Regions from separate parts of the Homo sapiens genome. Here all the other regions are linked to region 5. Evidence: fine-mapped expression QTL. A gene starts in region 5. Each other region holds a variant in brackets. All regions are shown on one strand. Distances are between the middles of the regions. Region 1 overlaps FYN (FYN proto-oncogene, Src family tyrosine kinase). Region 2 overlaps FYN (FYN proto-oncogene, Src family tyrosine kinase). Region 3 overlaps FAM229B (family with sequence similarity 229 member B). Region 4 overlaps FYN (FYN proto-oncogene, Src family tyrosine kinase). Region 5 holds the start of FYN (FYN proto-oncogene, Src family tyrosine kinase). Region 6 has its middle 31 kb from the start of LINC02527.

Evidence for each region. PIP is the estimated chance that this variant, and not a neighbour inherited with it, causes the effect. A credible set is the group of variants that fine-mapping cannot tell apart.
Region 1: its variant is the best candidate, but not a certain one, in a credible set for the expression of FYN in whole blood (TOPMed, PIP 0.81).
Region 2: its variant is the best candidate, but not a certain one, in a credible set for the expression of FYN in whole blood (TOPMed, PIP 0.87).
Region 3: its variant is the best candidate, but not a certain one, in a credible set for the expression of FYN in fibroblasts (GTEx, PIP 0.51).
Region 4: its variant is the best candidate, but not a certain one, in a credible set for the expression of FYN in whole blood (INTERVAL, PIP 0.77).
Region 6: its variant is the best candidate, but not a certain one, in a credible set for the expression of FYN in whole blood (TOPMed, PIP 0.85).

Annotation. Positions count from the first base shown.
Region 1 is chr6:111,712,605-111,717,679 of GRCh38, reverse strand. It overlaps FYN (FYN proto-oncogene, Src family tyrosine kinase), which reads left to right. Exons shown (of 14, transcript NM_002037.5): 5 at 3,237-3,333. Among named protein-coding and RNA genes, the nearest start is that of TRAF3IP2, 110 kb to the right of the region's middle. The variant A/G (reference allele first, on the strand shown) is at 2,310.
Region 2 is chr6:111,692,905-111,697,979 of GRCh38, reverse strand. It overlaps FYN (FYN proto-oncogene, Src family tyrosine kinase), which reads left to right. Exons shown (of 14, transcript NM_002037.5): 10 at 1,524-1,703; 11 at 3,276-3,352; 12 at 3,452-3,605. LOC105377945 (a long non-coding RNA gene) reads right to left here. Exons shown (of 3, transcript XR_001743812.2): 3 at 3,605-3,903. Among named protein-coding and RNA genes, the nearest start is that of TRAF3IP2, 90 kb to the right of the region's middle. The variant G/A (reference allele first, on the strand shown) is at 3,092.
Region 3 is chr6:112,095,085-112,100,159 of GRCh38, reverse strand. FAM229B (family with sequence similarity 229 member B) reads right to left here. Exons shown (of 4, transcript NM_001033564.3): 2 at 2,959-3,119; 3 at 752-890. The coding sequence starts at 876. Among named protein-coding and RNA genes, the nearest start is that of FAM229B, 10 kb to the right of the region's middle. The variant CTG/G (reference allele first, on the strand shown) is at 2,498.
Region 4 is chr6:111,680,226-111,685,300 of GRCh38, reverse strand. All of the region lies in intron 12 of FYN (FYN proto-oncogene, Src family tyrosine kinase), which reads left to right. Among named protein-coding and RNA genes, the nearest start is that of TRAF3IP2, 77 kb to the right of the region's middle. RefSeq lists an enhancer at 2,030-2,531. The variant A/G (reference allele first, on the strand shown) is at 2,756.
Region 5 is chr6:111,870,347-111,875,421 of GRCh38, reverse strand. FYN (FYN proto-oncogene, Src family tyrosine kinase) reads left to right here and starts at 1,970. Exons shown (of 14, transcript NM_002037.5): 1 at 1,970-2,454. LOC102724646 (a long non-coding RNA gene) reads right to left here and starts at 1,970. Exons shown (of 3, transcript NR_168402.1): 1 at 1,732-1,970. RefSeq lists silencers at 1,841-1,930, 2,051-2,300, 2,451-2,850 and an enhancer at 1,899-2,398.
Region 6 is chr6:111,938,039-111,943,113 of GRCh38, reverse strand. No RefSeq gene overlaps it. Among named protein-coding and RNA genes, the nearest start is that of LINC02527, 31 kb to the right of the region's middle. The variant C/T (reference allele first, on the strand shown) is at 2,932.

The DNA.
Region 1 (5,075 bases), 160 kb after region 5:
CCATCCTGGCCAACATGGCGAAACCCCGTCTCTACTAAAAAATACAAAAAATTAGCCAGGCGTGGTGGTGGGCGCCTGTAATCCCAGCTACTCGGGAGGCTGAGGCAGGAGAAGTGCTTAAACCCGGGAGGCGGAGGCTGCAGTGAGCCGAGATCACGCCATTGCACTCCAGCTTGGGCAACAAGAGTGAATCTCCATCTCAAAAGAAAAAAAAAAAAGTGGGCTCCCTGTCATTTCTGTAGGTCATAGCAGGCACTCTGAAGTGCAGAGAGACCAGAATGAAAAGGCAGACTGCAGGGAACTACTATTAGTTATCAACTGCTGTATAACAAATTGCCACAAAACTTAGCAGCTTAAAACAAAACACATTTAATTTCTTTTTTTTTTCAATTTCAGATGTTTTTTATTCAGAGGTTCTTAAAAGAAATAAAACAGAAAAGCTAACAGTCTGATCAAACATACAGCTCAAAAATGTCTTTTGACGTTTAACAACAAGTCCTAGGAAAGAAAACTACAGAGTTATCTTGAATGGGGTAAATAAGTTACCACTGGCAAGTCTGTGGCACTAGTAAAACAAAAATAAAAAATTAAATCTCGGCCAGGCGCAGTGGCTTACACCTGTAATCCCAGCACTTTGGGAGGCTGAGGCAGGCAGATCACGATGTCAGGAGTTCAAGACCAGCCTGCCCAACATGGTGAAACCCCGTCTCTACTAAAAATACAAAAAATTAGCTGGGCATGGTGGCAGGCACCTGTAATCTCAGCTACTCGGGAGGCTGAGGCAGGAGAATCACTTGAACCCGGGAGGCGGAGGTTGCAGTGAGCTGAGATTATGCCACTGCACTCCAGCCTGGGCGACAAGAGTGAAACTCCATCTCAAAAAAAAAAAAAAAAAATTAACTCTCTTGATCATATAGATATCTCTATATCTCTTTTTTTCAATCGGGTACAAAAGATCTTTCTTCATAATTTTTTTTATAATTTAATGGCTATCTACTATATGATGTTTAACTAATTTTTTTTTTAATATACAGAGGTTATGTTTCCCAAATCTTACCCAGACGAGTATGGCACTTAGTTAGACATTTCTGGCAACAGATTTCCCCTCCCCTCTAACCAAACTATCAAATTTCTGCCTTAACTAATGCAGAAGTATCAACTAGTGGGAGACCCAGGTTTATAACTGTACTAGGTACACAGAGGGTGCTGCGTTCAGCCTGGGCTTTCACAAAGCAGTAATATTCCAGGGAGCATAGAACCAGTGATACCGTGACTTTTAAAAAATAAAACAAAAACAAATTTATCTTATGACTATGTAATTTTCACTAGAATCTACACTTCTCAGAGCAGCCAGGACTTTGGAAACTATGAAATGTCACTGACATTTATCATCAAATACAAGCATAAAATGTAAGAACTAAAAAATACTCAAAAGAAATAACTGCTTAGCCCTAGCTTCTGAGCTAGGAGGATTTGGGCTGTGGAAACAGGGAGGGCCAGCAACCTGTCCCAGCACAAAAGAAAATAGACTCTGAGGTAGATAACTGATCATACACAGCTGACCAGACAAGTACACAGTTTTGGAAGGCAACTTAATTTACCATTGCTTTTAAGACATATGCAATTGCCTTAATAAAAGAGCTTTAATAACAGTGTATTATCTTATATGTACTAAAATAGAAATAACTGTGTATTTATGAATCAGGAATTTCATAGTTTCAAAACTGGTTTTCTTTACACTTGAACACTTGTAGTGATGACATAAAGTGTGGCACCGCTTGGATCCAAATCTTCCTTCATGCTTTTTTGTTTATGTGTGTCCATACATCAATTAAAATTATAAAACCTAAATTTACAGTTTCTGTGGGTCAGGAATCTGCGAATGGTCAGTTCGGTCCTTCAGAATCTCTCACAGGCTGTAATCAAGGTACGTTGGCTGGGCTATAGTCATCTCACAGTTTAGCTGAGAATGATCTGCTTCCAAACTCATGTAGTGCTGGCAGGATTCGGTGCCTCGCTGGCTGTTGGCCAGAGGCCACCCTCAGTTCTTGGTCACATGGGCCTCACCAGCATGGCGCCTTGCTTCATCAAAGTACACAAGCTGAAGTGGCAATAGAGAGAGTCTGCTAGAAAGACGGAAGTCACCATCTTTTGAAGCCTAGTCACTTAAGGGACTGCACATTCTGTTGAGTAGAAGCAAGTCGTTAGATCCAGCCCACACTCAAGGGGAGGGGCTTGCACGAGACTGAATACTAGGAGGCAGGAGTCACTGGGGACTATGCTAGAATTATGCCTGTTGGGTTGGGCAC[A/G]GTAGGTCACACCTATAATCCCAGCACTTTGGGAGGCCAAGCCAGGGGGATCACTTGCACCCAGGAATTCGAGACCAGCCTGGGCAACATAGTGAGACCCCCGTCTCTATTTGAAAAAAAAAAAAGAATTATGCCTAATTATATGGAGGAAATCCTAGGCCAAATGACACTGGATATTCTCTGCTGCTGCTAGCAAACTTCTGTAAACCAGGAAGGGCCTCTCTAGAGAGCCAGATGAGAGGACATAGGGTGGGTGTGAGGAAGAGTGAGTGCTACAAGACAGTGTGAGGAGAGGTGAGTTCAAGGTAGGGGGAGGACAAGGGAGAGGGTTCCATTTTCAGCAGTGGGGCGAGCAGCACAAAACTGCAAAATGAACTGCAGATGCCAAGGGCAGTACATCCTCTAATTGGGGTGAATATTACAGAAACGGTCTTCTCTAAATTTCCCCAAGCTGCAGGAGGCATTTCCTATTACGTTCTATGTTACTGTTTTACCAGGAGAAAGGGTGGTGCATTTTACCCAGAAACTAACATAGGCTCCAAGTGGAGGAGAAGATACGACCAGCAAAGGATGTCAGTAACTGCTGCAGAGCCCTGCAAACCTGAACCCTGACGCTGACGCTGCCCTTTTGTTTGGGATGCAATTTTAATATTTCCCTGCTCCTCAGCCCTCATTAAAAGCTATTACAGAAAGAAGCCCTTCAGGTCTAGGTTTCTTTCAGATACAGTAAGGCTTCCCCTACAAAGACCAAGGCATAAACACAGCCCTGTGACTGTGGTTTTGACACGTTAATTACAACACTTCATCATGTTATTAGTGCTGGCTAGATGTAGATTGTGAGAATGAGATTTTAGTGAAGATTTAATTTCTTGGAATTAATTTCCCCTTGTGTAATAATCTCCCTTCTTGTGAATTTCGTTTCGGCAGGAGTGACACTCTTTGTGGCCCTTTATGACTATGAAGCACGGACAGAAGATGACCTGAGTTTTCACAAAGGAGAAAAATTTCAAATATTGAACAGCTCGTAAGTTTGGAGAGGGAGGAGAAGCATGTATACCTTTCAGGTTGGGAAGGGGTCTTGCATTTCTGGTCTGCATCTCTTCAGATGTCTGAAATGCTAAAAGAACATTTGCTAAATTCACTGGTTTACAACAATATACTTTGAGAAAAAGAAGAGTCAGTGACACAGTGCAGTATTTTATGGCACTGTGTGTCCAAGGAGATTTTTGGAGAGTACCAAAAATACTAGCACAGTCCATGTTTATTGGTTTTGGTTTAGGTTTAAAGGTTGTAAAATCACCAGCATCGCTCTCCACAGCCCTGAGTGTTTCTACAAACCTACAGTTTCAAGTGATTGGCACAAGCCTTGGCTACCCACGTTTCGTGCTCTCTGCCTTGAGATTTTCTTCACATTTCAGATGTTACACTAGCTAAGCCCTCACTTGAGGCTTGCAACAAGTTCTTTATTTTATAAACTGCTAAACATTTCTTTGGTGAAGCCTGTGGAGGCGTTTCCCTATAACAAAAATTTGGGAGTGACTGGAATCTTTTGGAGCTAGAAGAAGTGATTTTACCCACTCTTGAATGAATATGCTGCATGGTTGTTTAATGTTGGCCAGGAGGAACAACAGTTAAACAAGCAGTGGGGAGATTTCAAGAGTGAGGATCACTCACTTTTCAAATCCTACATTCAGTACCTCCATAAGAAGAGTAAACACGGGTCAGATTTTCTTAGGGTTTATAAATACTGCCTCTATTAGATTGAGGCAGTGTATGTGGATGAGGCCCTTCAGAAAAAAATCTAGGTTCTGAAGAAAGTGTGGGGGGGTGGGGTTCCACATCAGCAAGCCAGGCATCTCCAGCGTCCCTATGAGTGCTCCCGGTGGTTGGGAAAGAATGCCACCCAGGGGCTGAGGGGCACACCAGGAAGTTCTTCTATGCCACCAAGTCTGGTTGCTTCTCCTCTGCTCTCTGAGCAAATCAGATTCCATGTTGGCAGAAGGACTTGGAGCCAGGCTCCTCAGCTTTCCCAGAAGGATATGCCAGAGGGAGTAAGAGGCAGCCCTGGTCACACTGCACATCCCAGGAAAGAGGAGTGCTGATTGCCACAGGGACCTCCTTCAGGCCTGAAAACTGCCTCCTTGGAAAGCCCACCCTTTTCTTGAATGCCCCCTGGCTCACAGAACCATGCAGTGAGAATATGCCGCCTTTCAACAGCAAGAACTGAATACTGCCATAAAGGGCCAACGACTCTCTTCGAGACATCAGAAGGCACAGTCTACATAGCCACAGGGTTTTCAAACATATATTAGGATTGTCATCATTAACAAAGGTGTGGGGTGGTGTTTTTTTAACTTTTTGTTGGAACACATGCAGAAAAGTGCACGTATCAAAAGTGTACACAGTGATGTTGCACAACAGTGTGAACGTACTTACTGCCGCTCAACTGTACACTTAAAAATGATTAAAATGATAAATTTTATGTTGCCTATATTTTACCACAATTTTCAAAAAGTATACAGTTTGCTGAATTTTCACAAGCTGAACATGCCTGTGTGGCCACCAGCCAGGTCAAGAAGAGTGTTACCTGCCCCCCAGGAGTCCTCCTCCTGTAGCCACAGGAAGTTTTTAAAAAATAATAAACAGCTACCATTCATTGAAGGCTCCTGATGTACCAGCCATGAGCTAAGTTACAAACATTCTCATGCATTCTTCCACTACTGTCTGAGGTATGCATCGACGTCATCGTTTGATATCTGAGGAGCC
Region 2 (5,075 bases), 180 kb after region 5:
TTATTGTGTCCATCTCTCTCTGGACTTAATCTCAAGTATCGTAAAATATATGACCTCCTTCTTCCTCATTCACCCTCTAATAATAGAGGATTTTAGTCAAATTACTCACACAATCACAGAGAATTGGACCCTATTAGAAAATTTATTTTCAAATTTTACAAATATCAACTTTAAATCATTACATATACTGTTCACATTTTGTTTTCCAATAAACACAAGACAACATGCCCATCAGAATTGGGATGGATGTCTGTGTAATTGACGAAGTTTGTATTACAGAGGAAGATCTTAATGTATTTAGAATTTTGGGTGCTGACTCTTAAATAGCAAAGATCACTTATAAATTGTCAAATTTCCCATGAATGCTTAGTGGGCAGATATTTTATGAAGTTTAAATGAACTTTTCTTTAAGCCACTTGTTTTTTCATAATTTATATTTTGTAGGTTGCATGTTGTAATTGTATGAACCATGTCTTTAACAGGATAATAAGAACTCCAATTTACAGAATCCTTAAATTCCAAAGTCAGTTATATTAAATATAAAAATCTTAATTTAAACCAGTCTTCTTTTTCAAATAGAAAATAATCTAAATTAGCAGATTTCTTCCCCTTTATAAAGTTATTCTTAAGCATCATAGGTCTAATAATGGAATACACAAAGAACCTAGGTATGGTTTTGTTTTTTGAATGCTGGGGCTGAAAGAGACCCAAAAGATAATCCAGTTCCATTCCTATATTTTACAGATGAGGTAACTGAGGACAATCATAATCCAGGCCTTGCCTTCAGATTTGCTAGATTTTTTTTTAACATGCTAAATTTAAATATTTCTGTTCCCTCTCAGCTGCTGTTTAATTTCCCCTGTCTACCTACCTGACAGAAGCCATTGTTCTTGTGGCTAGCCATCAGTAAAGCTGAGGAAATTTGCCTTACCTTGTTGAAGTATTGGCAAGCAGACTGTGAGCTCCTTGCCAGTGCTTATCAGCATGCTTGGCACACCTGTGCAAGGACTCAGTCAAGTAACTTGTCCATTGCAGACATTGAAAGTCTAGAGGTAATTTCCAGACATCCTCATGTGGTGCCATATTTTTAAATGGCACACCCCATAAACTTAAATAATCTAATTTCTTCCATGCACACTGTACTCCCTAAGGGACAGCTATTAGATGGCCAGGCCTGTTCCAACCCCTGGACTTTCATCACTGTATGGTGCAGAGCTTTTGGTATAAATGTGTAATCATATGACTGAGCCAAAAAAAGAGAGAGTGGTAATATATCAAAATTTAAAAAAATTTTAATGAGTTATAAATCTTAATATAGCCATCTTAGCCATAACCACAAATAAACTCATTTTTTCTGTTAAAATACTTGACAGAGTCCTTGCAATTGAATGTCTTTGTTCAACAAAAACTGTATTAAGTGTTTTAAATTTAAAATCTAATCTTATGCAAATAGCTGGTGGTCAAAACCTTTTTCCATCAAAAGAAGATCTTTGGTTTGACTTCATATTCTGGGATGTTTGTAGGTACCTGGAATGGAAACACAAAAGTAGCCATAAAGACTCTTAAACCAGGCACAATGTCCCCCGAATCATTCCTTGAGGAAGCGCAGATCATGAAGAAGCTGAAGCACGACAAGCTGGTCCAGCTCTATGCAGTGGTGTCTGAGGAGCCCATCTACATCGTCACCGAGTATATGAACAAAGGTTGGGCAACACCTCTCCTGTCTCCAGCTCACAGTGCCTTAAGGGGTTGTTTAGGGGAGAGAAATGGAAGTTTCCTACTTGCTACTTTTCTAGTTTCTGCCTGGGTCAAGTATTCCCATTAGGAACCACCAGTTATGTGCTCGTTAATGAAAACATTTTTTAAAACAGACTAACCTTGCGTTTACCCCACCCCAAATCCTTATGAAATGCCAAATACTTTTTACATGTTATGTGTGTCAGAAATTCAAGCTCCTCTCCATAATTAAAACATTCATTTTTAATATCAGGGTGGTACGGAGGGTTATGATAGTTTGCTGTTATTTTGAATGTAGTAGCTTTTGTTACATTTCCTTTTTGCAGGGCTAAACAATTAATATCAGACACTGGTCTCTAAGCTAAGTTTAGTCTCCATCATTTCAACATCTTTTTTATTTCCAGCTCTCTTCTTAAACGTCAGGCGATGAAATTACATGCTTTCAGAGACCACATTTATTCTCACATTCTCTCCCCTACAACCCCTCTGTCTTCCTAATCAAACCAGCATTGTTAGGGATAAGGCCAGAGATCATTTTGTTTTGGAAAAATAGATGAACCAAACAAGAAACAGCCTTAAAAGGCAATACATTGTTTATCAGAGGATACCAGTGTAATTTTTCTTTTCCATGTACTTTCTTTTAAAATTTAATGGGAATTTTTTTTTCTGGCAAACGGTTTGTCCTTTGTATCCAGGGTTATTTTGTAAATAACTTTGTGATTAAAGCATAAAATATCACTGATGACCATCATAAGCCTCCAGCTTCTGCAAATGATTATCCCTGCTTTGGTGTTAGTTCTAAGCCTTCTTAGGCTGTGTTATAATAGTGGCTCTGAAGCTTCCAATGTTTCATTTCAGATGTCTGATTTAAGGCTTGGCTGGCTGTGATCTAATTAAGGGGAACCATCTGCCCCACCCATATTCTTCAGATTGTCTTTTCTTGATTCAAAATCTGTAAATAAGCTAAGCTAGTGAGTCTCAAACTTTACCTTGTATTATTAGAATCACCTGTAGGCCTTCTTAAAACCCAAGTTTCTGGACCCAACCTTCAAAGTTTCTGATTTACTCGATCTGGGATGGGACCTGAGAATTTGCATATCTAACAAGTTCCCTTGTGTTATTGTAGCTGCTGGTCCCAGGACCACAGTTTTGGACCACTCAGCTGGGCTGTATTTTCCCCACATCAATTCTTTGTGCAGGGGTGATTGGGGAATGGGATTGAAGAGGTGCAGTTCTTCATAGGTTCCTCTTTATGACATACAGGGAGATTGAGTCCCATTTCTTCTAGTTTTATCAAATATATGTTGTTATTCCTAGAAATGGAATTAATGCTGTTTGTTTTTAAAAGGTAACT[G/A]TTACTTCTCCATGCCTATACTTTTTTCTACCCTGCTTTTTTATATAAACCTTTTTGTCCCCCCATGTGGATGGCATTATTCCATTTGACTACCTTATTACTTTTAATAAGAAAACCAAATACAGCTCTCTGTTGGGAATTATCTTTCAAAGTAAATTGAAATGATTTTATGTTTTGTTCATAGGAAGTTTACTGGATTTCTTAAAAGATGGAGAAGGAAGAGCTCTGAAATTACCAAATCTTGTGGACATGGCAGCACAGGTAGGCCCTGCAGGGTAACTTGATGTGCCATAGATTTAATGACGTGTCTAAGTACATTGGGTCGTGGTGTAACATGTCCTGTTCCCTGGGTTTCCACAGGTGGCTGCAGGAATGGCTTACATCGAGCGCATGAATTATATCCATAGAGATCTGCGATCAGCAAACATTCTAGTGGGGAATGGACTCATATGCAAGATTGCTGACTTCGGATTGGCCCGATTGATAGAAGACAATGAGTACACAGCAAGACAAGGTGGGCACTTGAATGACAATGGCTCGTGATCACAGCTGTGAGAACAGTCACTTACTGCACAGCCCTTCCTTCCTCCTTCCCTTCCCTTCCTTCAGAAAATACTTGAAATGTCATTCTTCAGCTTGGTTTGGACACCTTGATCTGGCAGGAATTTGACAGCTCTGCAGGTGGGAGACTGTTGTGGGCCCAGTGGAGGGATGAGATATTGGTTTTTGGTGGGTGGGTGGGTATTGGTATTTGCTGCTGTGGTCCTCTTGGCTCATGCTGGTCTCCTCACAGCGTCCAGGCCTAGAATACTCTGTTTTTGGAGAAAGAGACCACATTTATTCTCACATTCTCACATGCCTGTGTTTTTTACAAAGGCACAGGCAGGGTTTCAGAAAGCCAACAGGGCATGGTGCAGTGTCTCAGAGCTTGTAACAGCAACAGAACTAAGGCCTCAAAGGTAAGGGGGCAGAGAAGTGGGCACAAGAAGTCAGAATGGGCCACTGCACAGAGAGGGCCTCCTCAGTAAAGAGAGACGTCAGGGATGGATCTGGGGATTCACACCCAACCCCACTCTAGCCCACTTCTGGGTCTTCTGCCAGACCCAACCAGAAGTAGAGGTCACAGGAGCTCAGCGATGAATCCTTATGGGTCCAGAGCAGGGAGAGGGAGAGTGGAGAGTGGACTTACACTACAGATGGTAACAGCATAGTTACTCGAAAATCTCTACCTCCTTTCATCATCCCCGCCATCCCACCCTCTGCAAAAATTTATAGAAATTAGCCTTTAAGTAAAATATATCCCAACTCAGCAGCCATTCCAGTGGGGCAGCTTTTCAGGTGCTATTAGAGCACCAGATACTAGAAAGGAGTTTTTAGGAATATTTTCCTTCTTCCCAGATACTGACAAAGTGGTCACCAGGTAAAAGTGTGTGATTAAGTATGTGGTTTGCAATCGAGTATAGGCTCCTCATGTAGAATATAATGTTTATAGCTGGGGCAAGGGGGAACTTTCATTGTTGGTGTTTCTAACCAAAGCCTAGTCATCCCAAGCAAAGCGGAGCAGTGACTGGAATGTATTACAGGGTGATGCTTTCTACTGCATTTCATAATGGCCAGCTCTGGAGTCCTTTTCTTTCTCTTTTTCCTTCTCCTTCTCTTGCCCCTGTTCCTCCTCCTCTTGATTCTTTCATTTCATGCCAATTATCCTCTCCCTTCATTTGATCTGAGAATGGAAGCATTCTTAGCAGCCTCAAGTGATGAGGAAAAATGTTAAACTAAGACCCTGGCTGCTACCGATACTGTCCAAATGCTGAATTACATGTCGGTCAGACAGCTCAGCTATTTGAATTTCCCCAACACGTGGCAGTTCTTGTCCTGGAGCCAAATGCCCACACAGCAAGCATACCCGTGCGTTACACACACACATACACCCCCGGTGCTGGGCCAGATGGCATGCTGTATCTCTAATCAAAGGCGCACTGCA
Region 3 (5,075 bases), 220 kb before region 5:
TTTCCTTTCCAACATTCCCACCAAATAGTCATTCAGCCTTTAGCATTTCTAAAGATCGGGAGCTCACTACTTCCCAAAGCAGCCCATTTTATCCTTGACTAACTCCGATTTTTAAATACCTACACCTGTTAAACTTAAATCTGTGTTCCCAAAATTTCCAAGCCATGAGAATCTAACAATGTAGTATTTAAGGTTTTGCTATGGTAAACATCAGAGAAATGGAACTAATCATTCTGCAAAAACACTTTGTCTCACAGAATCTTCAGATTCTATATCACTCTTTCTGCCAAAGGTCGCAGCAAAGCCAAAGTGATACTAATCAAAGCCAAAGTGACATTAACTCTGAGGTCTAAGTCTTTTTCATATTTTTAGCCTTATGCCTAGCACAGTGCCCTGTGCATACTAGCACTGAAGTTTTGTTTGTTTAATTGAATGTTATCTAATCGTGAAGCTATCAACAAAACAATCTATTAGGTTGGTGCAAAGGTAATTGTGTTTTTGTTGTTGTTGTTAATAGCTAAAAATGTACCAGAAAGACAGAGAATGAATTGCTCTATCATCAAGACTTACAGAAATACAAAATACAGACTCTACACTAAGGAAAACTGGGCTCTGTTAATACGCTAACTTAGAAACAACAATGTTTTTGAATTGCTGAGAGTTTTTTCTTGCTAATAATGAATATCAGCTGAAGGTTGTATTGATGATAGCCAATACATATCTCCTCACTTGTGAGGACAGAAGACTTTACCTGGTTGGTGACATCTCCTTCCCATTACAGGCAGCACTGGAGCTCAGCCCAGGTTCCAGCTCAATTGAAGAATCTCCTCCTTCCACTGGAAACCTCCTTGGCTGGGTTCCAAATTGAAAAGGCATACTTCACTGAAAACCTAGATCGGAAAGTTAAAATATTGAAAACCTAGATTAGAAAATTAAAATATTGGGGGTGGAGATAGATTGTCTTCAAAGACTTGCATGGAATGTTTTAAAGAGTCAGAGTCTCACTATGTTGGCCAGGCTGGAGTGCAATGGTTATTCACCAGTGCAATCATAGTGCACTACAATTTTGAAACCCTGGGCTTAAGTGATCCTCCTGCCTCAGCCTCCTGAGTAACTGGAACTACAGGTGCACACAACGTGCCTGCCCTTGGAATTTTTAATATTACTATTTTGTTATAGACATACAGAAACATTCTGAATGTTATTCTATTTTTAAATAGCTAAAAATAGTGTTTAAAATACTGTATTTCACAACTATCCCTTATGTACAATTTAAGTCTTGCAAAAAATACAAAATAGCCACCAAGCAACGCAAGGAAAATACTCTATGGTTAACATAACTGAAGACCATTTCTGCCGTGTGAAAACAAAATTCTGTATGCCTTTAAATGGTTGTTGCAATCAACAAGCACCTCTCTACCTATCTATGCCCTTCTCTTCCTTTGGAGCACAGTTTCACATTCACCAAGATATCTTTAGCTAATCCTTCAGTTCCAGGGGATTATTCATTTCCCCACTGCTTCTCTATAGTCACAGTATAGTCCCTGGCTCTGGCCCTTCCCAACTATGTGATCTTCAGTCAAGGTACTTATCTATATTTCTCAAGGGTACATTGGTGATAATATTTTCTACTTCTAGGATAATAGTGAGGATTAAGTAAGGTAATACACGTAAAGTGCAGTGCCTAACACACAGTAAGTGCTCAGTAAATGTTAACTATTATTATTTAGCAGGTACTACTGAGCATTAGTAAGTATATATAAATGTCTGCAAGTATACCTGAGATATGAAATTTATTATGAAATACACACACAAACACATATAAATGAACTCCTTACTGCCTACCTTGGAACACTTCCCTACCCCCTGCTCCCACCCTTCACTTGCTATGGCCAATGCAATCCATTAAGTCTGAATTTACATTTTACTTACTCTATAACTTACTTTTATAACCCCCATTATCTAAGTTTTCATAGCAACCTTTATTTCTCCTTCGTAACAGTTATCCTTCTAATTCAGGGTTTCTCAACCATGACACTATTCACAGCTGGGATCAGATAGTTCTTAGCTGGGGAGGGAGGATACTGTCCTGTGCACTGTAGGATGTTTCGCAGCATTCAAGGCCTTTACCCACTGGATGCAAAGAGTACCCCTCTCCCAAAATTGTGACAGCCCAAAATGTCTATAGACATTGTCAAATGTCCCCTGGTGGGAGAGAGAGGCAAAACTGCCCACTGTTGAGAAACACTACCCTCATTTTTTGTAAATGTTTAATATCCCCCCTCATTCCAAGTCTGTCTTTGTCATCCCTGAATACTTAATACCTAGAACAGTGCTTGTCACACAGTGGACATTTAATAGCTCTACCCTGAAATAACTTGCATGTATTCAACTATTAGTACACAATGTATTCAACTATTAGTACACAATGTTTTCAACTATTAGTACACAATGTATTCAACTATTAGTACACAATGTTTTCAACTATTAGTACACA[CTG/G]TTTTCAACTATTAGTACACAATGTATTCAACTATTAGTACACAATGTTTTCAACTATTAGTACACAATGTTTTCAACTATTAGTACACAATGTTTTCAGCTATTAGTACACAATGTTTTCAGCTATTAGTACACAATGTATTCAACTATTAGTATACAATGTATTCAACTATTAGTACACAAAGGGTAGGAAAAATTTAAAATGGTGCAACTATTTCTTATGCCTAGTACAGTATTCTATGCCTAAAAGTGAATGTTTATTGGTGTTAATAATAAAACTAAATTAAGGTTTAAAAATTTGAATATGATAACTTTTATAGACTGTCTCAATATCAAGAAAAAAGTGTTTCGCTCAATGATGATTTAGTGAAACCATAATAAACTCTGTGGTTTAGTATAACTACCTATCTATGCAGGTATTAACATTTAGCTAATTTGATCAAGGATAAATAGACTTACCAAAAGAGGCTGAGTCTGATTCCTGTAGAGGTGAATAAATCAATGCTTTCTACTGGCCTTTCCACAGAAGGCTGGAATTGCCAAAGGAATGATGATCAAATGTTCCGGTGACACCCGGAAATTATGACATCAGGAGATTCTTTCACATAGTTTCCTACCTGCTAAAGAATCAAACATCTCAATGCATAGCTCCAACAACAAGCTGAGGCTTAGCTAAAAATTTTCTCTAAAGCTTTTTGGAGAGTTTCATTCTTGTTTTTACTGGCTTATTTCCCTACAATATTAGTATTTTCATCCATGAGTGGGGACCTACAGTCTAATCCACCTGTAGTAAATCAGAATTGAGATTCTTCTCATTTTATATCCTGTTTTCCTCATTCCCTTTCTCTCCCAGACCTTCTCTTATAACATCCCAAATAAATCCCATCTGTCTACATCCTCATCTCACTCCAATATCCTCAAACCCAAATTGTACCTTTACAAATTTCTCTATAACTCTTACATGGGATTCTTTACACCCTCTCTCTAATGCCTGGACTAACTTTATTTTTTTTTCCTGTTTCCTCAAGAGAGTCTTCAAATTCCCAAATGGCTGGAATAATTACAATTGTGAAAGGAAGAATACATCTTTTTTGTTGTTGTTGTTGAGACAGAGTCTCGCTCTGTCACCCAGGCTGGAGTGCAGTGGTGCTATCTTGGCTCACTGCAAGCTCTGCCTCACCTGTTCACACCACTCTCCTGCCTCAGCCTCCCAAGTAGCTGGGACTACAGGCACCCGCCACCACACCCGGCTAATTTTTTCTATTTTTAGTAGAGATGGGGTTTCACCGTGTTAGCCAGGATGGTCTCGATCTCCTGACCTCGTGATCCGCCCGCCTCGGCCTCCCAAAGTGCTGGGATTACAGGCGTGAGCCACCGCGCCCGGCCGAAAGGAAGAATACATCTTGTACTGTCCTCATTATTCTGTTCCCTGAGCCCTGGGCTGCTTCTCTGCTCATTTCTCTAACTGCTCTCCCTCTCCCAACTCATTCTTGGCTTCTAGATCAATAGCCCACCTCATGAACTTCTCCTCTACTCAGTAATGTTTAGTTTAACCCTTATACCAGAACATAACTCTTCAGCTAAGCAGTTTTTCAATTTTCATATCCGATGACTAAACTATTAAATGTTAGTGAGCATTTTTACCACTGTTGTGTTTTCATATGACTCAAGTTATAGAAAACTGGCATTTTACATAAGAATTAACTTGATGTTGGATACAATCTTACCTCCACCTTCTTTTTCTTACTAGGGTACTATCTGTGAATAAGTTGATCACCATTTCAGCTTGGAAAAATAACTGACGGTGTCACAGTCACACAAACAAATAATTGCTGGCCATTGTGAGCTAAGGTATCATTAGGACCTAAACATTTGGTCCTTAGGATGGCAAAAAATGTAATAGTTTACATGTTTGAGAGGTGGTAGCAGTGGGGAGAATGATGGGTTTTAGCATCAGAATTAGGTTAGAGGTTTTTTTTTTTCTTTTTTTTTTTTTTTGGTTTTTTTTTTTTTTTTTTTTTTTTTGAGACAGGGTCTTGCTCTGTCATCCAGGCTGGAGTGCAGTGGCATGATCATGGCTGACTGCATGCAGCCTCGACCTCCTGGAATCAAGCAATCCTCCTGCCTCAGCATCTCAAGTAGCTGGGACTACAGGTGCACACCACTATGCCCAGCTAATTTTGTATTTTTTTGTAGATAGAGGGTTTTACCATGCTGCTCAGGCTAGTCTCAAATTCCTGGGCTCAAGTGATCCACCCACCTCACCCTCCCAAAGTGCTAAGGTTACAGGCATGAGCCCACTGTGCCCAGCCAGGTTTGAATTTTGACACAATGTTAGCTCTGAGATTTTAAGCAAATCACTAAAAGTTTGTCTGTAAAATGGTATTAATTCCTACCTTACAGAGTTGTCGTGAGGAATTAAAAACAATCTAACATGTATAAAGCCAATAACTGGGACACAAGAATTCAATCAGCACTACTTCCTACATATTTTTGTGTCATTCTTGAAATCAGAGTATTGAGACACTGATTTCACCTTTTAGTCATGGATATATATGAAGTAAAATATCTGTAAG
Region 4 (5,075 bases), 190 kb after region 5:
CCATGCAGCCCAGCTCGTCATGTGGCATGAAGTCAGACTGACACGGGCCCTCTGCCCCTTCTGGGGGTGGCTGGATTCTTGGCATCATTTCTGTGTTGAGCTACATCCCACACATCCGTTGATCACTCAGGTGAGTTCCTCTCACCACCCTGGGCAGCAGTGTGCAGTTGGTTACAAAGCTCTTGTCTTTTGTTCTGGATTGAAAGTCCGCAAACATAGCGTTTATGCTGTTGAAGCTGTGAATCAGAATTTTTATTCTGTTTGTTTTGTTTTGTTTTGTTTTCTCTTTACAGAGGTAATCAAGTTACAGAATTTTTATTCTGATATTACTTCCTTTCTGGCTCTTCGGAAACTGGAAGGATAATTGGAATTATTCAGAGCCTCAGTATTCTAGAACAGCAAGCAGGGCTCCTTTTTTCTTCAGTCCCACCCAAGATAACCACTTAAATAAGCCTCCATAACACAGTCTGTACTCCAAGGAAAGTCCCTTCGATGGTTCTCAGATTTCCTTCTTAAAAGGACTAAATACCCACAGTTTCAGGAGATGCCCATTAATGTTATCCTCTACTTTTGTGTTGCCCCCATAAGTTACCCTGGGTTTGTCATTGGTCACCGTTGCAAGGAGGGTGATGGAGAAAGGCAAGCAGCCCAGAGTTTCCTCCCTTCACTTCCTGGCTCCTCTAGGGATATTTGGAAGGAATGTCACAGTTTACCTTCTGGTAGCCTCCATGTCTGGATCGAATGCCCTTCCACAATTTATCCTGCCTATCCTTCCCCGACTGCAAAACCCCAGGATTAATACCTAGAGTCCAGCCTTGCCCCTGCATTCTCCCTGGTAGCTGAGCCTACTCCCCTGTGTCCTCTAGTTGTCCTGGGTTCAATTTTTAATACCCACTGATGGACCTTCTGTCTCTTCTCTGTCCAGTCTTGAACTCTGGGCTCTCTTGGAACTTTCCTCACCCCTCTCAGCCTGAATATTCCTTCCATGGATTCCACTCAACCAGACTTTGGATCTGTGCCTACTTAATCAACCTTATCTTTGCAATATGTTCGGGCCCACCTTCCACTCCTTGGTTCTTGTCCTCCTTGGCCTAACTTGTCCCTTCTCCACTCACATCCCCGGTGGGACAGCATTCCTCCTTCCTCCCAACCTCCCTCCTTCTCAAACTTCTTGCTCAACATTATGAAATTTCAGATGGAATATAATCTTAACCCATTGTAACATATACTTTTCAAAAAAACATGATGCTAAAACTTTATGAACTTGAAGTAGAAGTTTCAACAGAGTGCGTCACCGGGGATAACTGGAAAACACCCAGTTGTATTACTTCAGAAGCATTTGGGAAATCTGAAAGTCATTCCTTTGGCCTAGTGTGAAAATTCTGAGTTTTGCTTTGCCAAGTTTCATTGGGTTTGAAATCATTGTTTTGTTTAAATAACCACAAAGTTCCAGGTCAGGTCAGCTTTGATTTTGCTTCTTTCACAGGATATCCTGTCCTGGTACCGCCTTGTCACCTCCCCCTCCTGTAAACCAAATTTCTGTTATTGGCATTGTTTGTGATTTTTTTTTTTTGTTTTATTACCCAGAGTAACTTTCAAGTTGAATTATTGCATACTATTAAATATTGGATATAATAATTTGCAGAGTTAGTGGCTTTATAATTAAAAAGGGCTCTGGGTGGCTCTTTGGTTCAGAAAAACAGTGTCTATTGTTGAAGTTAATGGGTTTCCTCCTTGAAAATGCTATTAGGGCACAGCTCAGATTCTCTGTAGGAAGGATTTGGCTTCTTTTATTCAATACTGACTTCACCTTCTCCACCTTGGCCTAGTTTTTTAGCCAGAGGGGATATTCTCTGAGACTATGGAATTGGCCTGGTCACCAAGAAAAATAAAAAAGAGAGAGACTTGGCAGTTCAGCTCTCCGGAGATGTGAGCTGGGCCCACCCAGGCCTGTCCTGGCCCCTGCCGTGACCCTCCCCACCGCAAGGAGAGCCATGGGTCATGCTGCATCATTCCAATGCGGCTGCCTCTCCCTGAAGCCCTCATCTCCTGCTTATGTTCTCTTTTCCTGTCTCTGCTGAGCCCTCTTCTTCCTAAAGGCAGTGCCACCATTTAGTTCTCTGTTGGGTTTGCCCGTGAAGTCTGTCTCCCTGGCTGCCTAGAAACCCCAAGGGCGGAGGCAACCTGTGCTTGGTTTTCCCAGGAGCGCCTCACAGGGTGCTGGGGACATCATGGACCCTCAGAAGATTCTCAGTGATTGGTTGATGAGTGTTTTGATTAGGAGGGTTTTTTCATCTTCTTTTCCTCTTCTGATGTTTGGAGAGCTTTGGCATTGCTGATGGCATTTGCCAGTGCAACTCAGGGACTTTAGGCCTTTACTATCTGAATAAAATAACAGCTGGTATTTATTCAGCTATTACCAGGTACCAGACGCTGTGCTGAGCCTTTTACATCAACTGTTCTTCCCACCACAACCTTAGGAGGTTATCATCCCCAGTTTACAGACAAGGAAACTGAGACTTAGGGATGTTTTAAATGATCAACCAGCAAATCCAGTGTGCAAGCACAGGGATACCTGACTCGGAAGCTCCTTTCCTAAATGATCATAGTGGTCCTTCCACAAGTGACCACTCAATCCCAGCTCAGCCCACAATCGGACCACTTTGCATTGTCACTGAAGAGCATCCACTCCTCGTTTCCTGGCCGGCTTATGTACTCTTACTGCAGGAGGTGATTTGGCAGCAAAAGTATCTGC[A/G]GTCTTCATTGGAGCATTTGAAATGCCCATGCCATCATCTTAATGTATGAAAACACATAAAGAACAGGAAGTAACTGAGTCAAGTAAGCTATTTCTATTTGAGGCAGAAGTGAAAAACAGATTACCTGGCCACTAGGGATAGAGGGACTTCATTAACTGGAATGTGGCCTGGGGCTTGGGATGGGCCATCCTGACATGATGACTTTGGGCAGTCATCCTGTTGGCACTGAAAAACCGAGAGCATCAGTCAGGCTGTGCTGTCGTATGAAAGGAAGATTTTATTCCTATAACTTTTAAGAGTGAAGAAAATTATTAGTTTATTACACCACTGTATTGACACTCTTTGCGTTTAGTTTGATTAAGTCTGTGTAAAGGAAGAGAATTACTTTGACCGTCAGGGTGTCAGATAACTTACTGCCTGGCTGGACCCTTTAGCTAGTTAGAGCATTTATTGCTGTTTAACCAGCCTTAGGCAAGTTGCTATGAAGAAATATGTGTCTCCAACCTCAAAGGATTTGCATTCTATTTAAGGAGATTTTTTAAATAACTTATGAAAGAACTAGTAAAAGGACACAGAGGAGACATGGACACAGTGGAACAGTGTATAGTGTTTATGCAGTCAGGCTCTGGCACCTTCGGTTCAAATCCCAGTTCTGTCATCTACACTTGTCCTTTGTTTGGCACATTGCTTTCCTCTCGGTGTTCCGTTTTCTCATCTGTAGAACAAGACTATTGCTGGCATCCACCTCATGTGCCCAGTGCTTTGCATGCCTGACTCTTAGCAAGCGCTCAGTGTATGTTTAGCTATTGTGGTAGCTGCTATTATCAAGCATTAAACTGTTGTTTCTAGCACTGGCGCTAGGTGCATTGGAGAGATTAGTGAAGGCTGGAGTAATCACAGATGGCTTCATGAAGGAGGTGGGACTGGAGCTGAGGAGGCTGTAGCTAAGCAGGTGAAGAGAAAGAGAGCATTTCCAAAGCCAATGTAAAAGAAACAAGTGTGAGCATGCTAAGTGCAGGACACAGGTTATAGTAAAGCAAACTGAACTAGATTAACTGTGTTTGGGGTAGCAAGAACCAAGTTAGGTCAGGCACGGTGGCTCACATCTGTAGTCCCAGCACTTTGGGAGACCAAGGCAGGAGGACCACTTGAGCCCAGGAATTCGAGACTAGCCTGGGCAACATAGCAAGATCCCATCTCTACAAAACATAAAATTAAACTAGGTGCAGTGGCTCATGCCTGTAATTGCAGCACTTTGGGAGGCCGAGGTGGGTGGATCACCTGAGGTCAGGAGTTCAAGAGCAGCCTGACCAATATGGTGAAACACCGCCTCTACTAAAAATACAAAAATTAGCCAGGCATGGTGGCGTGCACCAATAGTCCCAGCTACTCAGGAGGCTGAGACAGGAGAATTGCTTGTACCCATGAGGTGGAGGTTGCAGTAAGTCAAGATTGCACCACTGCACTCCAGCCTGGGCAACAGAGTGAGACTGTCTCAAAAAAAAAAAAAAATTAAATTAAATTAAACATTAGCCAGGCATGGTGGTGCACATCTAGCATCCTAGCTACTCAGGAGAGGCAGGAAACTTGCTTGAGTAAGCCCAAGCAAGAAGAAGAGCCCACAGGGGAGACACACAAAATGCTTGGAAAGAAAGGAAGGACATGGGGAAGAATAAACTCAGAAAAATAATTCATGCATTTCTCATAGAAATGTTTGAGCTTTGCGGGTTGGAATATGCTAAGTTTTACTGCTTTGTTACCGAAATTATTGGTATTATTCACATGTGAGAAGTGTGCTAAAATAGTACAAATGTACCCAGAGCCACTCGTTAAGTAAACATGACAGAAGTGACAATGGAAGCATCATCTACCCAATTGCTAATTGCTGATAGACACCCATGGGCCTTGAAATGTCACGATGCTTTTGAAGAGTTTTGAAAAGTCAAAACACTTTTCCCATTCTGTCTCATCATAAGTCATTCTCAAGGTAATGATGTGTTATCTTCCATGTTTTAAAAGACAAGGGGAAAGAACGACGTGGGAAGTCATCGCACTTCTGCTCACAGCCCAGTGACTTTCTGTTGCGCTTAGGATGGAATCCAAAATCCTAGTACAGGTTACAGAGTCCCACAAAATCTGTCCTTGTACCCCATCTTATTATTCTTCATAGCACTTTATTGTAGTTGACATATATAATAGCCATTCATTTATTTTATCTCCCTCAAACTAAGCTTCCAGCTCCATGACTGCCAGAGACTGTGTTCCCTTTCGTCCTCCTGGCACCGAGTGCAGTGCCAGGCACTGGGGAATACTCCAGAA
Region 5 (5,075 bases):
TCATTTTAACATGTAATCAATATTAAAATGGGATACTTTACATTCCATTTTTCATGCTTGATCTGAAATATCTAATACATCTTTTACATTTACAGCACATCCTAATTTGCAGTAGCCAAATTTCCAATACTGAAGTACATTTCAAGTACTTAACAGTCATGTGGCTAGTGGCTACCTCCTCGGACAGCCCAATTCTAGAACTATGGTCCTCAAGGTGCTGTCTCCAGATTGGCTGTATCAACATCACCTGGGAACTTGCTAAATGTGCAAATTCTTGGGCACCATCCCAAACCCCCTAAATCAGAACCTCAGGTGGTTAAACACAGCAATTCATGTTTAAGCAAGCCCCTTCAGTTATTTCTGATACATGTCAAAGTTTGAGAACCATTGCTCTACCCAACTGCCTCTGCATCCCAATCCAAATAAACCCAGAGCAGCCATTGCGGACTAGCCCTGAGGACGAAGAGCCTCTGCTCTTGAGATAAGCAATTCTTGGCTAAATGAAGCTGGCTTTCTCTTGTATGGAAATATCCTAGTCCTAGCTATGGTTCCATTTCTTGGGATTATGGAATTTCCAGACACAATTTAAACATGGTTTAATTTGTCATTTTGTTTAAGGAAAAGGAAAAAAATCCAGTAACCTCTGTATACTGTCACCTTGAGTTAGTTACTTAACTTTTCTTTTCCTCAGTTTCCTCCTCCATAGGATGCAGATCATTTAATAAATGTTAGCAACTTTTCTTAAAAAGTAGTGTGTACAAAAAGAAAAAAGTCAGCAAAAGGGACAGATTTTTTTAAACTACAGTAAAAACAAGTAGTGGGCCGGAAAGGCAATATTATAGATTTTGAGCACAGAAGCAGAAGCTGATTCACTTATAATTTCTTAGAACATTAGATTTGCTGAGGGGGAAGGTAGGGTTCTTGCCAAAATCATTAAGGAGAGCGATTCTGAGTATGCCTTAAAGCAGAACTTTCAGTAAACAGGAATTACCTATAAAGAAAATCAGGAAGCCAAAGTGTTTCTTTTTATGAAGTTACATCCTGCCATAGAAAAGCTGGATAGGAAATAAAGACCGATGCACTCCCAACTGTATACTAAACCGGCAATTATTTCATCAAGGGAAATATGAGCAAAAGCTCAGATTCAGTGAAGGGGAAAAAAACATGAGAAGTTTGAATGTTATGAGAAACCAAAGACAACCAATGACTACAATTAAACGAGGTTTTTTGGGGGTGGGGCGGGGAATGTACGAACAAATCTCTGTCATTTCAGGTTCCTTAGTCGCCGCTTGGCCCCTCCCCCTATTTCAGTAATACTTCCTCCAGACTTTTGCTAGAAAAAAAATATAAATGAGTGTCCGCAGAAATAGGGGACTGATAAAATGATCCTAATCTCCTTCTCCTCCTCATTGTTATTTGTTGTGCGTTTCCACGTTTCAGGACAGGATTCTACTTTGCTCCGTACTCTTTTCAGTTTGATCAAAGAAAACGCTGCTATCACCGCCCAATTTTCCATTTCATCCTCTCACCCTCAAATGAAAAGACACCAGAAAGGCAAGATAGCCCTGTCTCGAGGCAGTTTCCCATGGTTTTGGGGGAATGGCAGGTGCCAATCTGCAGCAGCAGCTGCAACCTTCCGCAAAGCGGAAACTGCAGTTCACACTCTCCGCTCTTTCTCCCGCCCTACTCCGCCACCTCACAACTCCACACAATCCTTAAAAACACACAGACCTCCTCCTCCAACCTCGCATTTTCTTGCACACCCTGCACCGCACGCACCCTGGGATGCCCGCTGCCACAGTAACGCTCAACCCACTCGGCGGCCCCACCTACTGCCGTCCCGCCCACGCCCCAGGCGCCAATGGTTGCGGCTCGCAGCTCCCAAGGGGCTCTTTGATAGGGCAGCCGGGCCTGTCACTCTCGAGGCGCGCCCCGCCCCCTCCTCGCTCCCCTCCGGAGCTGGAGGGGCAGAGCATCAGCAAGAGTAGCAGCGAGCAGCCGCGCTGGTGGCGGCGGCGCGTCGTTGCAGTTGCGCCATCTGTCAGGAGCGGAGCCGGCGAGGAGGGGGCTGCCGCGGGCGAGGAGGAGGGGTCGCCGCGAGCCGAAGGCCTTCGAGACCCGCCCGCCGCCCGGCGGCGAGAGTAGAGGCGAGGTTGTTGTGCGAGCGGCGCGTCCTCTCCCGCCCGGGCGCGCCGCGCTTCTCCCAGCGCACCGAGGACCGCCCGGGCGCACACAAAGCCGCCGCCCGCGCCGCACCGCCCGGCGGCCGCCGCCCGCGCCAGGGAGGGATTCGGCCGCCGGGCCGGGGACACCCCGGCGCCGCCCCCTCGGTGCTCTCGGAAGGCCCACCGGCTCCCGGGCCCGCCGGGGACCCCCCGGAGCCGCCTCGGCCGCGCCGGAGGAGGGCGGGGAGAGGACCATGTGAGTGGGCTCCGGAGCCTCAGCGCCGCGCAGGTAAGCAGGCGGCGGGGATGCGTCGCGGGAGGCCTCGGGGATGCTGCGGAGAAGCCCGGCCGCCGGCGCCCCCGCGCACGCCGCCCCCGCCGCAGGGCCCGGTGCTGCGGTCCCTTGGCCGCCAGGGCGCTCCGCGGGGCTGCCGGGGAGTCGGTGCTTGGGGTCTTCCCGCGGTTGCACCGGAGGACACCCCTGCGGGGTGCGGCCCCGAGGCAGCGCGGGGATGGGGACCCCATTTCCTCGCCCGCAAGCGGGCGCCGGGTGAAAATGGGAATTGGCTTGGGGGCGAGGCTGGCCCAGACTCCGCCCCCGCCCTCCTTTTGGGGCCCCCCGCGGGGACTGGGGCTGTGTGTGTTGTTTTAATGTCAGGGATGATGTAATCACTTAATAATTGATGCCCCGTGCTGCTTCCCTCCCCACCCAACCCCTGCCCCACTCCTCCACCTCTCGGCCTCCTCCCTCGGCGGCGGTCGCCTTCTCCAACCCATCCTCCTGCCTATTTCTGGCACCTCCCTTGCACTTCCCCCATCCTCCCCTTCACTCTTCCTGTGCCACCACCCACCCACCCTTCCCCTTTCCCCTGTGCTGGAGCCTTCCCTCCTCTTCCTCTGTCCCCCACCCCTCTGCTCCCTCCAGCTCTTTTCTCCTTCCTTTCCGGCTCCCTCGCTGGATTTCCTCTCTACTTCCCTAGATCCATGGCTGTTTTTGTTTGGGCTCCTCCCCTCTGTTATCTCTGCGGCCACAGGCGGAGGGGACTGGGCCAGAAGGAGGCCACCGAGCTTGGGCCCAGCAGAGATGTGCTGGGACTCACTGGGAAGAGGGATAATAAAATCACCCTTCTTGCCCCTCCTTCCCCCAATAAATCACACAGACTCGCCGGGTGTGTGAGTGTGAGTGTGACACAAAGAGCCCTTTCAGTGCATAGAGAGGAGACACACAAAGTACCCTAGGATAGGCACGATGCTTCTTGTCTCTCTTCCCTGGGGCTTCCCTTTCTTTCCCATGAAGCAGTTGATCTCTCTGAGTCTTTCCTGCCACATTTACCAAAAAATAAAAGAACCCCCGGATGCCGGGTGGCAGGTGTCGGCATTTTGCTGTGTTCAGAGACCGGTAGTGTTGACTGGCAGCTGCAGTGTTTCTTAGATTTAAGGGAACAGTTATCCCAGCAGTCTTAAGAGTTGCTTTACTTTTAAGGTAGCCTCCCCATCCCCTCGTTCTTTCCCCTGTCCTTTTGGGAACAAGTACTAAGAGCTGGGGTAGAGTAGATTGGTGTGGGGGTCACAAGAATTTTGTTTCTGAATCAGAATTAAATTGTTATTTGATAAGAGGGAGGCAGCCTGAATGGCTTCTTCTCTCAAGTCTAAGAGGGCACTGTACTGAAGTCTTTTGAAATGAAATCCTGTCTGCCCAGTGATGTTGTTTTACCCTTTTATTGAAGTAAATACCTGGGGACGTGGATAAAACGGTCTAGAGTTAGCATTTGGAAGACCACTGCAGACTGCCTCTTGCCTGCTTCAAGGTAGTCTTGGGACGCCTACTTCCTTTCTCACCACCCAAGCAACTGCAATACTTTCCACCCTATGTACTGTCTTCTTCCCCAGTCCCTGCTCCATGGGTACCCTGTATTCAGATGAAGGGACTCACAGACTTTTGGAGGAAGTGGTTTAACTATCTGAGGCTTTGAGGCCACTTGGCTATGAACTGGGGCTGTAGAGAATCTTGACTGAAGTCTAAACCATTTGATGTTCCCTTTAAGGAAGAAATGTTAATGTAAATCTGGGGGCTTAATGTTCCGTTTTGTAAGCCAGTGACTATTACATGCTTAATCGATATTGTCAAAACTTAAGTTGAACCTGTTCTTTCCTAAAAGTATGGCTCCTCGACTATTTTTATAAGTAACAGAACTGTAGGTTTAGTCTTCAGTAATTTTATTAGAAAAGAGTTATGATTCATTAAATATTTACTTACACACTTTTTAAGAACATTCATCGTGGAACTTTTTACGATAAAAAAAGCAATAGGGTTAATGAGTGTACTGTAAAAACAAAGGGTCGTTTGTTTGATGCCAGACCCAGGAAGGAAAGCCAGAGCACATAAACTCACACTCTGTTGACCAAGTTTAAGAGACTTAATGATAAGGTTGAATGTGAGCAAATGCACACTCTGCTTTCTCCTGGGTCTGGAATCTCCAACCCCATCTGACTTGCTCGAAGTCCTTTTTAACCTTTGGGGCCCAGCTCAAATGTCATCTCCTCTGTGAAGCCGTTTCCATCTTCTCCTTTCCAAACAAATCATCATGTTTTGGTTTCAAACTTTGGCAGCAGGCATTATGTTTCGCATGAGTCTATTTCCACCATTAATTGGTCAGCACATTGATAAAAGGAACCTTATCTTACTTATCTTGTTTCCTACCAAGTTTTATCTTAGCGGGTATTCTGTTTCATTTAACATTAAACAAATGTGAGTTAGGTCTTTGGTATGTGCTCAACACCTGTATCAATTAGGCTAATGTTAGCAGGTGTAACAAATAGGCCTGCAAATATATAATGGCTCAAAAGCAATAGACGTTTATTCTTGCTCATTTAATAGTCAAAAATTCATGTTTCTGGTCGGTAGGTGGC
Region 6 (5,075 bases), 68 kb before region 5:
TTCCTCAAAATTACACAGCTATCAGTAGCATCTGATCATCTCTCCATTTATTGAGCTAAAGGTATTGGGTGAGCTGTTCTTTTATTTAACAGACCTATTTTGTGGTCCTACTTTGTGTCAGCCATTCATGCAAGAAATCAAAGACTGATTCTTTTGTGTACATCCATACTGTATGTGCCCAGGCTGTGCTGAGCACTGGAACAAGGCAGATCAGTCCCAGTCCTAAAGAGGCAGAAGCCCTGCCTGCCCTCAGGAGTTTAAGTTGGTGGATAAACAGCAGAGTATTTGCAAGCAAGGCATTTGGCTTAAGAAACGGAAGTGAAAATTATGTTTGAGAAATTTGGGTGTGTGTGAAAATGATGAAATGAGAACAAAAATACAGAAAATACATGTAGTTCAAAGGAACTCTTGGGAGAAGATGAAAGTAACATGTTGTATATAAGGAAATGAGAAAGTAAATCACAAGCAGATATAATATCTCAAAATATTGCCTAAGCCCGGGTAACAATAAAAACACACACACACATACACCCTCATGCAAGTGTCTTTTTTACTCTGGAATGTACTACCCCTTGTTAGGAGAGACGCTTCTGACCCACTGTCAGTGACTGTATTTTCAATTACCTTCCCTTAGTGATGGGTTTGCACAGTCCTAGCTACACTCTTCAGTAGCCACCACATAACCAATCTCAACTCGCAAAGGCTAATAAAAGGTAAAATGATGCAGCTGCTGTAGAAAACAGGATGATGGTTCCTCAAAAAAAATTGCACATGGAATTACCATGGGATCCAGCAATTCCACTTCTGGATATATATGAAAAGAATTGGATGCAGGGACTTGAACATATATTTGTACACCCACATTCATAGCAGCATTGTTCACAATAGCCAAAAGGTGGAAACAAGCCAAATGTCCATCAACAGAAGAATGGATAAACAAGGTGTGGTATATCCATACAATGGAATATTATTCAGCCTTAAAGAGGAGTAAAATTGTGATACATGCTAGAACATGGATGAACCTTGAACATATTACGCTAGGTGAAATAAACCAATTACAAAAGTACAAATAAGGCATGATTACACTTAAATGAGGTACAATATGAGGTACTTACAGGAGTCAAATTGATAGAGAGACAAAGTAGAGTGGTGATTACCCAGATGTAGGGGAGGAGGCGATGGGCAGTAACTGCTTAGTTATTTCCATTTGGGGTGATGAAATCAAGTCCTGGAAATGGATAGTGGTGATGGTTGCACAACAATGTGAAAGTGCCTAATGCTACTGAATTGTACACTTGAAAATAGTTAAAAAGGTAAATTTTATATTATGTATATTTTGCTACAATAAAAATATTTTTTTTAAAAAAAGACTAATAATGAGATCACAGGGGAGGCTGGCACACTAGAAAGAAGAACCACTGTGACCTCTAAGCATAGTATCCCAGGGTTAAGTAACTCTAGTAGTGTGCTTCCCAGACACTGTGAGTACTTTAAAACCATTTCAATACAATCTACTTTACTGTAGACTCAATATCTTTCTTCAAATCAACTTACTTAATAAAATTAATTTCTGCTTTGCCTTTGTCCTAAGCAAAGATGTACCATACATGAAATCATGGGTGTTGTGTGCCATTCTATTTTTTTCTAACACACCCTAATGACATATAACTTAACATAATAGATATTGATCAGCATATAACCTAAAATTATGTTTTGTGTCACACTTTGGAAAATACCACATGTCAATAACAATATTGTTTCATTTTATACTAGTAGTTATGCAAATGACTACTAGTTTCTAAATCAAATGATGGAAAAAGAATGGGTTTGAAAACGATAAGAGGTAGATTTTAGAGCTGTGCTTTCATCAAGGTTCAACAGGGAATCAATGGCACACCCAAATCAGACGAATTCCAGGAGAGTTTATTTACAAGGGGACTGTTTACAAAGATGTGAGTGGGTGTGGGTAGGGTGACCATCAGTCCCAGTTGCACAGGACAGGGTGGTTTCTACCTATTATCCTGGTGTAATAATTAATAACCCTACCTTTATTCTCAAGGGTGCCCCAGCTTGGATAATAAGTTACATGATTTCTCTAAGGACAGGGGAATCACAAGGGATCATGCAAAAATCCAGGGTGAGTAACAGTGAAGCAGTCACCAGCTCTAGACCCAAAGGGATGGGGGAGGGAGCAGTTACTGGAACCCAGGAGGAAAGTCTGTCTAGTGGGCCCCTCAGAAGAAACTGTGCCTTTGGTGGAGGGATACAGTCAATTCAAGGCAACATTGCAGGGAGAGAGCCAAGGAAATAAAAAACTAACCTCATCCTGCTCTTTGTTCTCATCTCCTGCCAGAGCTCCCTTTGGGCAAGCCAGGGAGTGAGGGTGTCTATTGATACAGCCTTGATGGATCAGTTTCCTGGGCTGAGAGCAGAGTGGAGGGTAGACAGTGAATCTGGAGGACCACCGTTTATGTTCTTTGACCAAGTCCTTCAACCTCTTTGAACACCAGTTTCCTTACCCTTCACATGAGAGCCTCATTCTGGTCATCTCTAAGGATCTCCAAGTTTCAACACTGTATGAAAAAGGAATATTTATTAGTCTAACAAGAATTAGGGGAGATTTCCTTCTGTCATCTACTCAGAAGCATTCTTTCCCCCACCTGAGGTACGTTTAATGTTAACAGGAATCCTGTTGACCTGATGAATGGGAAGAGTGTCCATTAAATGACCAAAATGCCTGAAGCTCTAGGAATGTTAACCTTGGTATGCACCTCGGGAAGGTCAGTCCCCCTCTTGCTGAGGCAGCCAATAAGCAGAGATAGACACAAATGTCATAATATCTCCTCTTTAAATGTAAATACTATTTTTAATGCCAAATAGATGAGGAGCAGCAAGGAGATGAAAAGGAAAGAGGAAGATGACCATTACCAC[C/T]ATTGAAAGTGACTTCCACCACTTCCTCTAAGGATGCTACCTCATAATTACTACTGAGAAGAAGTGTAAGACACTGGCTGGCTGCCTGGGACAGAGGCTGAGCAAAGGGATGAACGTCTACATCAGAGAGCCTGCATCCATGGGAAGCCCAGGACTCTGATGGGCCTTCTGCCTGGAACAACACACTTCATTCTGCAATGCTGAGTGCTTACTGAGAACTGGCACACACGTTAATTGCAGAGTACAAGAATTCACCAATGTAAAGGGAGAGAAGGGTTTTCTCCACTAAGAAAGTCAATAATATGTCAGGCTTATTTTATCCAGAAATCCAATACACTTGCAGAGCTGCAGACTTTGACTTCTTGACCTGCACAGATGGGAGAGGTGACATGGTGAGGAGGTGAAGAAGTGGGCACAGAAGCCAGACTGCCTGGGTTCAAATCCTGACTCTGCCCTCACTAGCCATGTAATCTTAGCAGGTTACTTAACTTTTTTGCTCCTCATCAATAAAATAAGAACTGGTGCCTTCTCCTAGGACTGTTATGAGGATTAAAGTATTTAATAAGAAGCTAATAAACTTAATGAAAGCAGAATAGTACTATATGTGTTTAATAAAATAAATGTTTTAATAAAATAGATGTTTTAATAAAATAAATTAAACACTATATGTGTTTAATAAAATAAATGTTTCAATGGAAGGGCAAAGAAGCCCTCAAACTTAAACATAAGGTGGATGGCACAGTTGCCTAAATAAAATGGAAAAGATAAAGGTAATTTCTATTGGATTTGAGCAAGTTCCCAAGTAGACTTGAAAAGAAATTTCCTATTACCTTTTTTTTCTGTGTTTTTACAGATGTTAAGAAGTATATGGCCTATGATTTTCATCTATTACAGTTGTCATACATTTATATTTATGTGCATATAAATAGACACACACTATGTGCTCAAATTCTCCTAGTTCATAACCTACTCTCTGAGGCATGTCATTCACTCATAGTGAAAAGGGTAATGAATCCAAAAACACATTAGAATTTTGGTTCTATGCCTTTTTTGAGAGACCTTAGATAAATCTAGCTTTGGGAAATGTTTCACCATCTGAATATGAGATGATCTCTCAGATTCTTTTGGGGATCAAATGAGGTAATACAAGCAAAGCACTTAGAACAGTGACTCATTTTTAAACAAACAAAAGAAGCTAAATTGATGGTGTGAGACTTTGAAGACAAAAGGCACTGTGGCTTCCCTCGTACTCTTTCTCTGGATCACTCTGGGGGAATCCAGCTGCATGTTGTGAGGCCGCCTGCAACACCCTATGGAGAATTCCATGTGGTAGAAATCTGAGGCCTCCTGCCAGCTGTCAGCAAGGAACTGAGGCCTCTAGCCAACAGCCAGGTGAGTGCACCGTCTTAGGAGCAGATTCTTCCAGCTCCAGTCGAGCCTTCAGATGACTGCAATCCTGGCCAACATGCTGACTGCAACCTCCTGAGAGATCCTGAACCAGAACCACCCAGCCCAGCTAAACTGCTCCTGGATTCCTGCTCTATAGAAACAGTGTGAGATAACATTCATTGTTGTTTTAAGCTGCTAAATTTTGGGGTAATTTATTACATAGCAATAGACAACTAACATAATAGGGGTTGAATTCCTGGTCTACCTACATTTGGACTCAGAATAATAACAAGATGAACCCAGAAATTTGAGAATAAGATTATATAGAATAAGATGCTAAACTGAACCCTACAGGAAACAAGACTGAGCGTGATGAGGTGATCATTCTAAGGTAAGCTGGAAAATAAGCTGGAGAAACAAGACATTAATTTGCCAAAAAGAAAGTAGGGTTGGAGCTTAGTGTTTATTCAACTATGCAGCAAATAAATAGGGCAGCAACTATGTGCTACACACTGAGCTAGGATATTGAGCCACAAAGACAATTATCTCCACAATGATTTCTGCCCTCAAAAAATACACACAACACAAGTAAATAGAATTACAACATGAGTGATAAGTGCTCTCTGATAGTACCCTACAGTTTTTGGAAATTACGGAAATCTTCCCAGACGACGGAGTATCTAACAGAAACAGAAGGTTGGGGTTGCATTAGCCAAGCACAGAGGAGGAGGTGAAGTACAATGATCTAAGCCAAG